Linked DNA regions of Homo sapiens: region 2 is linked to region 1. A link means that fine-mapping ties the variant in region 1 to the expression of a gene that starts in the linked region. Tissue or cell type: whole blood. Region 1 holds a variant in brackets; the other region holds the start of a gene. All regions are shown on one strand. Distances are between the middles of the regions.

Region 1 (8,107 bases):
AGCTGGGTGGGTGGTGTGTGCCTGTGGTCTCAGCTACTCCAGAGGGTGAACTGGATAAAAATTGATTGAGCGCGGAGATTGAGGCTGCAGTGAGCTGTGATCTCCTCACAGCACTCCATCCTGGGTGACAGAGCCAAACTCTTGTCTCAAAACAAAACAAAACAAAAAACCAAAACACTGAGGTAGAAGAAACCCTATTCTAGTATTCTTGGGCTTATTATTCCCCTGTTTTACGTCATTTGTGTTTATCAAGTAATATTTTGATTTAGCTTTCCTAAGGAAAAGTTTGTATTATTTGTTAATCCCCATGCTTTCTACACTAATTAACAGCTAATAATTATCATTTTAAAGTAATAAATTTGCATTCTGGTTTATATATCAGTAGCTATGAGCTTGATTACTAAGTTTGTCCCTAATAGGACATCTAGTCTCAGTATGCTTACAAAATCAGATATCTGAGTTTGTAATATTAAGAATTAGACTATATATATCTTTGTCATTTTATGAGAATAAAGGCCACCTATGATGGCTTTAGGTAGATAGCCAGCTGACAGTAAAAATGTATGTTTGGTTTGTATGAAGCAAGCTAAGGATTTCATGACTCCAGCAATTTACAATTTAACTCAAAATCTAGCTGAAAGCCTAGTTCAAGTTCTGTCTTTTCTATTAAATGTTTTCTGATTAGACTTACATGCAGTGACTACCCAGTATAAACCACCACCCTGGAACCTCTTTTCTTCCCGAAAATGCTTATTTTTCTCTAAATCACTTATCACCATCTGACATACACGTTTACTTGTTTATTGCCATTTCTACACTCACACAGGATTATGAGCTCTATAGGTAGGAGTTTTGTTAACACACTGCTTTGACTTTGTGGTTACCAGTGCTTGTCACATATCAAGTTCTTAAGAAGCATTCATTGAATGAAGGAATCTGTTTAATTCTGAATCTTTCTTTCCTCTAGGCTTCTTTGTTTATAAGTTGTAGTCAATATAGAATAATACAGGGTTTGTATTGTTTGATGTGTATAAATCTGATCTCCGTCTGCAGGAACTTTCTTGGAGCAAGGGCCTAACTTTGTACTATTATCTCCTCCACAGAATCTTAGTTGGCATTTGTGTTTGATCTCTTGATTTAGATAGACACGAGTTTGATTTTTGGTTTAGCTGTTTACTTACTTTTGTGACAGTAGGTAACTTTTCTGAACCTTGGTTTCTCTGTTTTAAGGATATACGAGATAGTGTTGGTTGAGGACTGTGATGGTTCATTTTATGTTGTAAGCATGACTGGGCCACAGGATACCCAGATCCTGGTAAGATATTATTTCTGACTGTGTCTGTGAGGGTGTTTCCGAAGAGATTAGCATTTGAGCTAGTAGACTGAGTAGGGAAGGACCACCCTTATCCATTTGGGCAGATATTGTCCATCCTTTGGGGGCCCACATAGAAAAAAAAAAAAAAAAAGGCAGACGAAGGATGAATTGGCTCTTTCTGAGCTGGAACATCCTTGTCTCCTGCTTTCAGATGTGGGTGCTCCTGGTTCTTCATTTTTCAGACTTGAACCAAGACACACCACTGGCTTTCCTGTTTCTCCAGCTTGTGGGCTGCAGATCATGGGATTTTGGCTTTCATAATCATATGAGATAATGAGCCTATATATATATATGTATACACACACACATATGCAAACACACAGAGAAACACACACAAATATGCTCACACTCTATTGGTCCTGTTTTTGTGGAGAACTCTAATACAAAGACATTTGAAGATTGAGAGAATGCACAAGATGGCCCCCGCAGGCCATTGTACTAGCCATCTCATTTTATATCACATCTAAGTATGCCTTGAATTTTTTTAGTTTTATGTACCTGGCCTTATTGTGCTCTTATCAGTATGACTTCTGGTTTTTGAATGGATAACATTGTTTTATAACTTGTGCTTCAGAAAATACCAGTGCTGTTTCTTTCCCCCCTTTCTTTTTTTGAAACAGTCTTGCTCTGTCACCCAGGGTGGAGTACAGTGGCGCGATCTTGGCTCACTGCAACCTCAGCCTCCTGGGTTCAAGTGATTCTTCTGCCTCACCCTCCCGAGTTGCTGGGATTCCAGGTGCGTGCCACCAAGCCTAGTTTTTGTATTTTTAGTAGAGGTGGGATTTCACCATGTTGGCCAGGATGGACTCAAACTCCTGACCTCAAGTGATCTGTCTGCCTTGGCCTCCCAGAAGTGTTAGGATTACAAGTGTGAGCCACTGTACCCGGCACCACTGTTGTTTCTAGGCTTAATTAATTTGTTGTGGCCAACAGGCTTTTCCTTGTGTTTCAGCTTTAGCACTACCTGTCCATCATAGCTGTCATTACAGCTTTGTTGACTTTACTGTCTCGCATACTCTTACCCAGTGCTGCTTTGGTCTTGCCCAAGGCGGCAGTTCTTTCCTTTTCTCTCTTCTCTACTTTTTGTTCAACATTATCTAATTTTCATATATAGATCTATGTATGTATATGTTAAATTTTTATATATATTAAATACTTTTCCCAGCTCTGCCTCTGTATTTATGACTAGATACGTAAACAATTGTTAATATACATCAATATATATTAATTACATTAATATTAACATTTGATATAGATTCTGTTCTTTCCTCAACTGTGCCTTGACAAACTTAGGAAAAAAAAAAAAGTTTTTTTTTTTTTTTTTTTTTGAGATGGAATCTCACTCTGTTGCCCAGGCTGGAGTCCAGTGGTGCGATCTTGGCTCACTGCAACCTCTGCCTTCCAGGTTCAAGCAGTTCTCCTGCCTCAGCCTCCCTAGTAGCTGGGACTACAGGAGCGCGCCACTAATTTTTGTATTTTTAGTAGAGACGGGGTTTCACCATGTTGGTCAGGCTGGTCTTGAACTCCAGACCTTGTGATTCTCCCTCTTCGGCCTCCCAAAGTGCTGGGAGTACAGGTGTGAGCCACCGTGCCTGGCCAGAAAATTTTTTAACAATTCAAATAAGTGTAAAAAGTTAAACCCTATTCTATCTTAATTTCTTGCATTTTGTATTTTACAATTTAGCAGCTTTAAAATCATCGTACTGAGTCCCTTCCACCTAAGTCACTTTCCATCTCTTGCGCTCATAATATACTGCAGGTTGGCATATACCTTTTAACTAAGAGTTTAGAGGGGGATTTTGTCTTTGTAGAAATCTGAATTTTCCAGAGGAAAAAAATTCTGAAAATTTAGAGTCCTTAGGTGAGATCCTCAGTAAACTGACATCCACTCATTTTAATAATATTCTTTTCTCTTTTATGTAAATTGATAACCAAGGCATGTGCAACATTTGAAAAGAGCTTTCCCAACATGAGAGAGAATAAACATGTAGGAAAAAAAGAATAGCCAGGAAAATACAAGGAACTGTTTTGAAAGCTTTGGGGGAAAATCCTCTTAATATACTCAGATGAGAAGATATTTCATCATTACAATGAATGAACTGGTTTAGATTCCTTAAAAGACATTCAAGAAGTGTGACTTTTGGCTTCCTCACCCAAGGTCAGCTTCAGCAGTTAGAAGGGAAAACTAAATGTTCTGAGCAAATGGTGAGAAATCCCCTAGGTTGGTGGAAGAAAGGCTGTTTTGAACTGGTGTGTGGAATAGAGAAGCTTTGTCCCAGGTCAAGAGAGAGGGCATCCTCTTGGCTATCAGAAGAAAAAATAGGAAAGGAACTATTGAAGCTCTTCACGCCTTTGAAGCAAAGGTGCCTAACTCGCGTACACTTGTAAAGTATCAGACCTTTGATATTTTGAGGAGTCAATTCAGGATAGTGCAGAGGCCCTTTCCTTCTGAGTGGATTTAAAAAATGAACTTTTGCTTCCCTACCTCTTACCCAGACAGTTCTCAGTGCTAATACGCTATAGTTGGTAAGAGATGCAGGAAAAACCAAACCAAATTGTTTTTTCCACTGTCGACTCAACACAACACTTCTGACACCAGATGTGTTGGGGTATTTTCTTACACACCTAGCAGATCTCCAGCAGACATGAGCTGGATATCCTCCAACTGAATTATTTTTTCACGCTGTCTACCTACAGCTAGCGTCAGATCCCACTGATTGAGGACTCAATCTCACAAGACTGCCTCCCACTTCAGATGACAATCGCAAGTAGTAGGTTGTCACCTATACTTCTGACTGAGCAGCTATAAAATTCACTGATCAGCTATAGACCAGCTCCTTCTCATGTTCAATTAGTTTGCTAGAGCAATTCACAAAGGTCAGAGAAACACTTTACTTATTATGTTTACCGATTTATTACAAAGAATATTTTAAAGGATACAAATGAATAGCCAGATGAAGATACATGGGATGGGATCTGGAAGGGTCCAGAGAACAGGAACTTTCATCCCTGTGGAGTTTGTGTGTGCCACCCACCTGGCACGTGGATGTGTTCTTGTACACCAGTCTGGAACCTCATTCAAACTCT[ATT/T]TTTAGGGGGTTTTATGGAGACTTCATTACATAGGCATCATTGATTATATAATTGGCCATTGTTGATCAACTCAATTCAGCCCCTCTCCTCTCCCTGGAGGTCTGGGGTGGGGCTATGAACTTTCCAACTCTCTAAACACATGGTTGGTTCCCTTGGTAACAAGCACCATCCTGGGGCTATCTAGAAGCCCACCAAGATTGCCTCATTAGAACAAAAGAGTCTTCTGTCACCTAGGAAATTCCTAGGGATTTAGGAGCTCGGTGTCAGGAACCAGGAGTCAAAGGACAAATATTAGAACAAAAGATTCTCCTAGTGCCTGTATCTACAAGGATTTTAGAAGCTGTATGTCAGGAAATGGAGACAAAAAACAAATATATATTTCATGTTATCACAATAGTCGAAGAAGAGTCTCCATTTAGATGCTTTAACATGTGAAAAAATAGTGAAGCTACTTTCCCAAGGAATTGTTTTGAGAAAAGATGAGAGATTGTAGTTTTCTGCTGCCTGGAATATTCCACCTTAGGTATTTTCCACCTGTATGTCTTGAGCTCAATGGGGCTGACAGTGATTGTGGGCTGACATCGTCTATATACATTGCTTAAATGTATTTTCCTAGAAGAAAATGAGCACACAGACCAAATAAAACATTCAAAGGAAAGAAAAATAATATACTGGATTACAGATGCCATTAGTAGTAGAAATACTAGATTAGACAAATGATGAATATAAAATTATCCTAATAAATGTATTAAAAATATTAGAGGAAGATAATATGAAATAAAATCTAAAAGAAAAAATTACTCAATATCAAAAACATAATACAAAATGTAAGATATGCTGGGCATGGTGGTTCACTCCTGTAATCCCAGCACTTTGGAAAGCTGAGGTAGGCGAATCACTTGAAGCCAGGAGTTCAAGACCAGCCTGGCCAACATGGTGAAACACCATCTCTACTAAAAATATAACAATTAGTTGAGTCAGGCATGGTGGCTAATGCCTGTAATCCAAGCGCTTTGGGAGGCTGAGGCGGGTGGATCACCTGAGGTCAGGAGTTTGAAACCAGCCTGGCCAACATGGTGAAACCCTGTCTCTACTAAAACTACAAAAAAATTAGCTGGGTGTGGTGGCATGTGCCTGTAATCCCAGCTACCCAGGAGGCTGAGGCAGGAGAATTGCTTGAACCTGGAGGTGGAGGTTGCAGTGAGCCAAGATAGCACCACTGCATTCCAGCCTGGGCAACAGAGCGAGACTCTGTCGTGGAGAAAACAAGCAAACAAACAAAAAGATGAATAACAGAATTGATCTATTTGAAGAACAAAATTGTTAATTGGAAGATTAAAGAGAATATTTCACGGGGATAAAAGGACAAGGAAATAGCAAATATAAAAGAAAAATTGACAGCTATCAAATACAGAAATAAAGGTATTGACATCCAGAAGATAGGAATCTAAGAAGGGAGATAATTTTTTTTAAGTGGAGAATAAATACTTAAAGGGATAAAAGGGATAGTTTTCTAGAATTAAAGTGAGAGAGAAAAGAGAGAGGTGAGAAATTTCAGATTAAAAGGAGTTCAGAGTCAAGAGAGAAGAAAGAAACACAACATACGTTAAAGTTAAAATATAAGACTGCCAGAGATAAAGAAAATGCTAAAGACTTGCAGAGATGAGGGAAAAAAAAAAGTCACAAACAAATGAAGAAGAATTAGATTGGCATCACACTTTTTCAGCAGTAACTCTTGAATGTAAGCAGAAAATGTATTAGCTTTTTTTTTTTTTTTTTTTTTTTAGATGGAGTCTCGCTCTGTCGCCCAGGCTGGAGTGCAGTGGCGCAGTCTCAGCACACTGCAAGCTCCGCCTCCGGGGTTCACGCCATTCTCCTGCCTCAGCCTCCCGAGTAGCTGGGACTACAGGCCACCACCACACCCGGCTAATTTTTTGTATTTTTAGTAGAGACGGTGTTTCACCATGTTAGTCAGGATGGTGTCGATCTCCTGGCCTTGTGATCCGCCCACCTTGGCCTCCCAGAGTGCTGGGAGCATTTTTTAAGGTTTGAAGAGAACCTAGATTTTAAATCCCACCAAGTTGTCATTCAGATATTAAAGCCATAATAAAAATTTTTATCAAGAATACAGATACCAGAAGGTTTTTCAAACCTTAATATTAAAAATAAGTTTAGATGAGGCACTGAAATGAGCAGACCCATTTAAGGAAACGTTGAAAGAGATAAATGAAGTGAAGATGATGAAATACATTGGTTAGTGAAGCTAACCAAAGTATAGAGAAAATATGTCCATATTAACCCTGAACCTAAAAGTCTAGGTCAGTACTTCTCAAATTATCTATGCCAAAGAAACTTTTTTTTTTTAAATTCCAGTTTGTTTAGAAAATCACAAGTATTGATGTCCCAGGAATGTTGAACTTACGTAAGAGTTCTGGACATGTTATTATCAGTTCGTATATTTTTGGACCAGTAACAGAATATTTAAAGGAGCAAACAACAGAAACAGATGCAATAATGACAGAATGAAGGAAATGGCAGAAAAGGGCATGATTATAATATACTCAGTATACTCAAGGATTTAAAGTAAAACATTAACATAAGAGAAATGTAAAATATAAAAAAGACTCAAATGAACATTTAGAGGTGAACAACACAAATGAAATCACTGGATGGTGATTTCAAGATATTAGACATGGGAAAAGAAAAGATCAAGCTGGGGGTGGTGGCTGACACTTGTAATCCCAACATGTAATGCCAACACTTTGGGAGGCCAGGATAGGAGGATTCCTCGAGTCTAGGAGTTCAAGACTAGCCTGGGCAACATAAGGAGACACCATCTCTACAAAAAAGTTAAAAATTAACAAAAATTAGCTGGGCGTGTTGGCAGGCACCTGTAATTCCCAGCTACTTGGGAGCCTGAGATGCCAGAATTACCTGAACTTGAGGCAGAGGTTGTAGTGAGTCGAGATGGCACCGCTGCACTCCAGCCTGGGTGATAGAGCCAGACCCTGTCTCCAAAAACAAAACAAAACGAGCGTGGTGGTGCATGGCTATACTCTCAGCTACTTGGGAGGCTGCTGAGGCAGGAGGATCACTTGAGCCTTGGAGGTTGGAGTGGCAGTGAGCCGTGATCGTGCCACTGCATTCCAGCCTGGTTGACAGAGCAAGGCCCTGTCTCGAAAAGAAAAGAAAAAAGATCAGTGACCTTTAATGTAGCAATAGAAACAATGCAAAATGAAGCACAGATAGAATAGATGGGATGGGGGGCGACGGGGCACACTGAATAGAATTTCAGTGGCCTTTGGAATGATATCAAATATTTATGTATGCACCATTGGCATTCTGGTGTTGGAGGAGGGTGCAAGGACAAGGAGGCAGCCAGTGAAAATATTTGATTAAATAATGTACGAAATGTTTTCATATTTGCAAGAACATTATAAACATGCAGAGTCAAGAATCTTAAAGAATTGCAAACAATGGGAATGATTGTGTGTGTGTGTGTGTAGTAGGCTTAGGAGGATGAGAGAAGTTGATTAATCAGTAGAGACATACATTCAAATAGAAGAAATAAGTTCCAATGTTCTATGGCAGAGCAGGATGACTATAGTTAATAAGTCAAGTGATTCTCCTGCCTCAGCCTCC
Region 2 (8,107 bases), 190 kb after region 1:
AGTAAGAGGCTTCATTAACTACCTCATGTGATGTGAGAACTGACCACTCTGGAGGGAAGCTGTTACTCAACAAACATTCTCAGCACTCTTAAGGGCTAAACACATAGAAAACGATTGTGGCCAGGCAGTCACATGGACCCTGCCCTTTGCAGCAGAGGTAAGCAAAACATGAGCAACAGCCACATATAAATTAAGATCTGACATCACTTTCCAAATCAGCAGCAAACAAACCAAAGAACTAGAAATTATCTCACAAGAGTTTTGACATTTGTTACCAGTAGTCACACTGACAAAATGTGTACGGAAAGAAATATCTAAATATACACTAATTTTATAAGTTATAATTTTTCCATATTTAAAACTGACAGGCTGGGCACAGTGGCACATGCCTGTAATCCCAACACTTTGGGAGGCTGAGACAGGAAGATTGCTTGAGGCCAGGAGTTCAAGACCAGCTTGGGCAACACAGCAAGACCCCATCTCCACAAAAAGTTTTTGAAAAAATTAGCTGGGCATGGTGGTGCAAACCTGTAGTCCCAGCTATTGTGGAGGGCTCAGGCAGGAGGATCCCTTGAGTGTGGGCAACAGAGTAAGACCCTGTCTCTTAAAGAAAAATTGACCAAAAAACCCTAATGAAACAAAGTTATTCAGAGTGCAAAGACTAGCTATTTTTTTCTTCAGTGGAAGTACAATTTTTCTTTTGACAAACTTCAATAACCAGATAATTAGAATCCATTACCTCTGTGGTACATATTAAAATGAATATTTCAAACTAGTCTCTTCCAGATCTTAAAAATTCACTGTGAGGAATTTCTAAGGCCCTTACTGCCAAACCTAACATAAAAGAATCAATACTGGAGCAGAGGTAATAAATGCTAACACAGAATCTACAGTTCAATATAGATGAGAACCATACTGAAATGAACATGATGAGTACAATATGGCAGCATTGCTAGAAAGAGGTCTTGATATCAAAATAACTCGTGATTCATAATGTATTTAAGTTACTGACCTAAGTAATTACCTAATTCTCTCAGCTTAGGCTTATTTATCTGTAAAACTGGAAAACACACCTTACTAAGTTCCGAGGATGCTCTGAGGACACATGATTACAAATCCATGTACTGTGATAAGTCCTTATACAATGAATTTGGACTACACTACGACGTCATTTGACAAAGCTTATTGCATTAGTAACTCTCTGAGTATAGAAAAAGAAAAAGCTTGTATAATACTAGTGGAATTTTCAAAGACATTCAAATTATAGCATTGAGAACTCTCATCTTGAGTCAACTAGATACTAAGTTAGGTGTTCACTGACATAAAAGAATGTCAGAATTTTCATAGCCGGGCAGGGTGGTGCATGCCTGTAATCCCAGCTACTCAGGAGGCTGAGGCAGAGAACTGCTTGAACCCGGGAGGTGGAGGCTGCAGTGAGCCCAGATCGCACCACTGCACTCTAGCCTGGGTGACAAAGCGAGACTCCGTCTCAAAAAAGAAAAAAAAAAAAAAAAAAAGTCTGAATTTTCAAAAACCTCATCTTATAAAACTGTGAGTGACAATTCTGAGTGCCAGAGGCCTGTAATTGGTACTCATTCAAGTAACCGTCAACGTCTGTTCTACTGTTACCTTCCAATAAACAACTATGCTGGAAATTAGATCTTTCAAGACTCAAATGGTTTAAGAATTCAAGGTGTCCGCCGGGCACGCTGGCTCACGCCTGTAATCCCAGCACTTTGGGAGGCCAGGCGGGGGGATCACGAGGTCAGGAGATCGAGACCATCCTGGCCAACATGGTGAAACCCCGTCTCTACTAAAAATACAAAAATTAGCTGGGCGTGGCGGCGCGTGCCTGAAATCCCAGCTACTCAGAAGGCTGAGGCAGAAGAATCGCTTAAACCAGGGAGTCGGAGGTTGCAGTGAGCTGAGATCGCGCCACTGCACTCTAGTCTGGTGACAGAGAGAGACTCCATCTCAAAAAAAAAAAAAAAAAAGAATTCAAGATGCCAAATTTCTGATACTTGCCTACATAAATTTTATGGCTGAAATACGGAGTTACGCTAGCCTGCTTAAAAAGACTCTGTCGAAACTCGCTCCGTTTTATGGAGGAGAATTTAAATGGTATTGCCACCATTTAACTAATTTTTCCTGAACTGGTAGTGATTCTGCAGTTCTATCTGCAACTGTCACCCAGTTCTAGTCTCCTTTTAAAACATCACACATTCGTGGGGCAGTTGGCGGGGGTTATTCTGCAGCCAAATAATGTGAAGCTAACTAGAACTGAACCAATGCTCATTTGGCAAGGACACCTGAACTCTGAAGCACTTCGTAAACAGCTGATTATTTCTAGTAATACTCCTGTGAAGTTTCAGTATTGAGCCATCCACTGTATTTCATTGCCAACTATATGTCGCCTTAAAAACAAGAAAAGTGCAAGACAGTTCCCTGGTTATTTGAGTCAGAGTCTCGCTCTGTCGCCCAGGTTGGAGTGCAGTGGCACAATCTCGGCCCACTGCAACCTCCACCTCCTGGGCTCAAGCGATCCTGCCACCTCAGCCTCCCGAGTAGCTGGGACCACAGGCGGGCGCCACCACGCCAGGCTATTTTTGTATTTTTTGTAGAGACCGGGTTTCGCCATGTTGCCCAGGCTGGTCTCGAACTTCTAAGCTCAAGTGATTCGCCCGCCTCGGCCTCCCAAAGTGCTGGGATTACAGGCGTGAGCCCCGGCGCCTGGCCAGTTCCCTGGTTAAAAAAAACTCGCAAATGTAGTCCAATTCGTCTTAAGTGTAAATACCTACCACCTGGGGCAAGACCCAACTTAAAAGGGAGGGGCGCCTCACAACAGTTAACCTGGCACCAGTGATTTGGTCCGAGAATCTTAGGCTTTTAAAGCTCAAGTCCAAACCTTTATTCTACAAATAGATTTTAAATTAAGGGCTTATGGTCTGGTTATAATCGCTAACTCTTACACTGTACTATGTACTTAGTACAGTTCTAAGTGCTTTACACCTATTTACTCCTTTAATCCTCCCAAAAAACCTGAAGCCGAGTGAAGCCAAGTAGTTTGCCCAAGGTAACACAGATATCAAGTGACGAGGTTAGAATTCAAATCCAAGCAGCATAGCTTCAAAACCTAGAGTCTTAAACCACCTGACTCTACTGCTCTTCTAGGACTCAGAGTTCTAATGTGAGAAAAGAATCCTCTATAGAGCTTTCTTTCAATTCCACCATCGCAAATGAATTGCAAACCTGTGACTCAAAAGTTCTTCCTGTGTGCAACCTTAAGTAATCTGACTTTTACATCCAAAATGGGTAACCTCTCTGGAAAACTAAAAGATGCAATGGCCAGTCTGAAAAGAACTCATGCTTCCCGTTGTTAGTGGGGTTCTGTTGTGTTGTTTTTTAATTGCAACACCTGAAACGCCTTAAAACACAAGTAAACAGGCTATCAGCCATTTTCCTGAGAACAGCAAACACCTATTACACTTTCATGATGCCTAAATTGATGAATCTGAGCTAAATACAGGAACGGCTGTCTTTTTCCCAGCTGTCTCTAATATATTTGGAAGACGGTAGACTCAGTTTATGCATGTGAATGTATGTGAGAAATGAGGGGGAAGTGGAGGGTGAGGAGGGGGAAGTGGAGGGTGAGGAGGGGGAAGTGAAGGGTGAGGAGGGGGAAGTGGAGGGTGAGGAGGCTATTCACTCCTCCACCTCTCCAAAGCGGGGCGACTCAGACTCAGACCCTGCTGCTAGAACTTAAAACCAGTATCACACCATTTCTGCCTTGGCCGGCTTCAGTGCCTCTCCAGGCTGTAGGGAGGTGGCTACGTGGCGCTAAGAGGACTTCCCCCAGCCAGAGAGGAGGTGGCAGCCCCAGGTGGTGGCATCCCCTCGCCCGGGGCCCCGCGACAGGGGGCGCCAGGACTTCCCGGGGATCCCCCAGGAGGGCAAAGTCTGAAGTGGCTAGCCTGGAGCCGCAGTTGGGCCAGGGCCTGCCTAGCAGCCCCTCACAGCCTCTGCGACCACTCCTGCCAAACCAACCTCCCAGCCTAAAGGGTTAGCCGACGCGCCGGGGACGGGGCCGGGCTCCTGAGGCAAAGGCACCCAAGACGAACGCTATATTCTGTGGGACACTCACCAGGTTGAGGGGTCCTTCCATTACTTCCATAGACCCCGGGGTAAGCGGCGGCCTTAGGAAGGGGAGTAGTGGCGCCGGGGAACATGGAGGGGACTGCAAGGGAGCTCGACGCAGCCGCGGAGACTGCGGCCCCTCTCTGCGCCCCAAGAGCCAGCGATAGGCGCTGAAGGAGCAACAACCTCACCACTTCCTCCTCCGGCGCCGCGCCGCGGGCCCGCCCCCTGCGCCACCGCCGAGGCCACGCACGGCGCCATGACGTCACACGCGCAAAAGGCTGGTTCAAGGTGGGAATGAGGACAGGCAGTGGGTGGGGCCCAGGGAAGGCGGGGCACCAGCTGATGTACGCTTGCGAGCGGTCAATCTTTCCTCTCGCGAGAAGCGTTAGTTTAGGTTCTTAAAGTCTACACTGAAGTCACGTGAGGAGGTACAGCCTTGCTGTTGAAGACTTGAAATGGCTGTCTTCTGCAATTAGCTTCTCACGTTTCCTTTTAGACTGACTTTTCCTTAAATCTGCTAATCGTTACACCGTTACTTGTGGTCCTGTCCACACCTTTATCATTGTACATGATTCATTTTTTCAAAAGGCCGATTTGAGCAATTCTAGACCATGCACTGGACTAACCCCCCTAGAGGTCAGCACACTCGAATGATTTAGGGCTCTGCCCTCAAGTTGCTCACAAACTGATAGGGAAACAATTTTGGTCTAGCCAAATATAATACTGCATTCATTTAACAATTATGTGCCAAACAAAAGCTAGGTTCGTTCTGTCATGGAATTCACTGACAAATAGTTGTGATTTATGCTGGAAAGGGAACACATAGGGAGCTGTGATAGAGTAACCAAGGTGGAGTTGGGTGGTAAAGGAAAGCCTTTCATGGGGGGCGTGATTTTTTTTGAGAAAGTGTCTTGCTGACGCAATCTCCACTCACTGCAACCTCCCTCTGCCCGCCCCCTGCCCCAGGCGATCCTCACACCTCAGTCTCTTAAGTAGCTAGGAACTACAAGTGCTCAGGCCAGGTTAATTTTTGTATTTTTTGTAGAGATGGGGTTTCGCCATGTTGCCTATGCTGATCTTGAACTGCTGAGCTCAAGTGAGCTCAATGATCCGCCCTCCTGGACCTCACAAACTGATGGGATTATAGGCATGAGCTACCGCACCTGGCTAAGGGCGTAATCTTTAAGATTAAACCTTAAAATGCCAGTTAAACAAAGACCCTTCTCGACAAAGGAAATGTCTTATGCCTCAACTCTAAAGGCGGGGAGGTCGGGTGGCGGGAGCTGCAGCATTTCAGAGAGATGCAAAAGAAGATACCAGAGAGATAGGAAACTTCCAAAACATAGGTGTCCTTGCAGTGCACAATGAAACATTTGAATTTTACTCAAAGTGCATTGGGAAATAAGTAAAGGATATTAAGCTAGAGAATAATCTGCTTTAATTTACAGTTTTGAAAAGATTAATTTCCCTGTAATGTGAAGAATAGATTGTGGAAGGCCTAAGGAAAAAGAACCAAGACAAGCTAGTTGATTGACTAATTATGGGCGCTCAGACTGGAATGGAAGTAGGGAAGATTGGGTCATGCATCCACTCATTACATAGTTATCATGTTTCTACCATGTGCCGGAAACCTTGGAAGAGAAGTAGATATATTCAAGATATATTTTTGGGCATCAGGTTGAGAGGAGTTAGTGATGGAATGGCAGTAAAGCATACAGAAAATGGAAGAATCAAATCTCGTATTTAAACAACCAAGTGGCCTAGCACACTGGCTCACCCCTGTAATCCCAGCTCTTTGGGAGGTCAAGGAGAGCAGATCACTTGAGGCCAGGAGTTTGAGACTGGTCTGGCCAACGTGGTGAAACTTCATCTCTACTAAAAGCACTAAAACGTAGCCAAGTGTGGTGGCGCGTGCCTGTAATCCCAGCTACTGGGGAGACTGAGGCAGGAGAATTGCTTGAACCTGGAAGGCAGAGGTTGCAGTGAGCTGAGACCAATCACACCACTGCATTCCAGCCTGGGTGACACAGAGAGACTCTGTCTCTAAAAATAAAAAAATAAAAAAGTAAACAACCAAGTGGACAAGATAGTGAGAGACAGGACTAGCTGGATTTCCTAGGCCAACTAAGAATTCCTAAACCTAGCTGGGGAAGGTGACCACACCCACATTTAAACACAGGGCTTGTAACTCAGTTCACACCCGACTAATCAGGTAGTAAAGAGGGCTCACTAAAATACAAATTAGGCTAGAAGCAGAAGGTAAAGAAATAGTCAAATCATATATCGCCTGAGAGCACAGGGGGAGGGACAATGATCAGGATATAAACCCAGGCATTCGAGCAGGGAGTGGCAACCCCCTTTGGGTCCCCTCCCATTGTATGGGAGCTCTGTTTTCACTCTATTAAATCTTGCAACTGCACACTCTTCTGGTCCATGTTTGTTACAGCTTGAGCTGAGCTTTCACTCACCGTCCACCACCGCTGTTTGCTGCCATCACAGACCCGCCGCTGACTTCCACCCCTCTGGATCCATCAGGGTGTCCACTGTGCTCCTGATCCAGCGAGGCGCCCATTGCTGCTCCCAATCGGGCTAGAGGCTCGCCATTGTTCCTGCAAGGCTAAGTGCCCAGGGTTTGTCCTAATCGAGCTGAACACTAGTTGCTGGGTTCCACGGTTCTCTTCTGTGACCCACGGCTTCTAATAGAGCTATAACACTCACTGCATGGCCCAAGGTTCCATTCCTTGGAATCCGTGAGGCCAAGAACCCCAGGTCAGAGAACAAAAGGCTTGCCGCCATCTTGGAAGTGGCCTGCCACCATCTTGGGAGCTCTAAGAACAAAGACCCCCTGGTAACAATAGGAAGGAGCTAATTTGTATGGAAAATGAAAAGTTCTATCTTGGGCACTGTATTAATTTCCTATGACTGCTGTAAGAAGTTACTACCCATTTAGTGGATTAAAACAACAGAAATTTGGAGGCTAGCAGTTCTGGAGGCTAGAAGACCAAAATAATTTTTTTTTTTTTTTGAGACGGAGTCTCGCTCTTTCACCCAGGCTGGAGTGCAGTGGCTCGATCTTGGCTCACTGCAGGCTCCACCCCCGGGGTTCACGCCATTCTCCTGCCTCAGCCTCCCACATAGCTGGGACTACAGGCGCCTGCCACCTCGCCTGGCTAATTTTTTGTATTTTTAGTAGAGACGGGGTTTCACCGTGTTAGCCAGGATGGTCTCGATCTCCTGACCTCGTGAATCACCCTCCTCGGCCTCCCAAAGTGCTGTGATTACAGGCGTGAGCCACCATGCCCGGCCAAGACCAAAATAATTTCATAGCGCCAAAACAAAGGTATACAGCAAGGCCTTGCCCCCTTCTTTTCCAGCCTCTGGAGCTACATTCTTTGCATTCCTTTGACTCACAGCCCCTTCTTCCATCTTCAAAGCCAGCAGCACTGCATCTTCAAAGCTCTTGCTGCTTTTGTCATGTCATTTCCTCTTAAAATCCTTCTGCCTCCCTCTAGTAAGGACCCTGTGAATACATTTGGTCCACAAAATAGTTAAAGATAGTCTTCCTATCTCAAGGTTAACTTAATCATACCTACAAAGTCCCTTTGCCATATGAGGTAACATTCTCAGCTTCCACAGATTAGGACCTGGGTATCTTTCGGACCATTATTGAGACTACCAGAGGCATTGTATCTAAAGCAAATCAATGACATACTCAAAATAATCCCAGAAGGGTTTAATAAACGGACTGTTTTACAAAGGTGTGGCCAGAGTTTAGGTATTTACATGAGAAAAGCAATAACTCCTAGGCTATAAAGAAAGAAATAGAAGGGGCTGGGTACAGTGTCTCACACCTGTAATCTCAGCACTTTTGGGAGGTGGAGGCAGAGGTGGGCGGATCACTTGAGGCCAGGAGTTCAAGCCCAGCCTGGCCAACATGGCGAAACCTCATCTCTATCCAAAATACAAAAAT

Evidence for each region. PIP is the estimated chance that this variant, and not a neighbour inherited with it, causes the effect.
Region 2: it holds the start of NRBF2, and the variant in region 1 is fine-mapped to the expression of NRBF2 in whole blood (INTERVAL, PIP above 0.99).

What each region holds. Positions count from the first base shown.
Region 1 is chr10:63,317,399-63,325,505 of GRCh38, reverse strand. The region is part of intron 2 of JMJD1C (jumonji domain containing 1C); the gene reads left to right. Among named protein-coding and RNA genes, the nearest start is that of MIR1296, 52 kb to the left of the region's middle. The variant ATT/T (reference allele first, on the strand shown) is at 4,463.
Region 2 is chr10:63,129,535-63,137,641 of GRCh38, reverse strand. NRBF2 (nuclear receptor binding factor 2) reads right to left here and starts at 4,314. Exons shown (of 4, transcript NM_030759.5): 1 at 4,142-4,314. The coding sequence starts at 4,171. RefSeq lists silencers at 3,768-4,037, 4,248-4,497.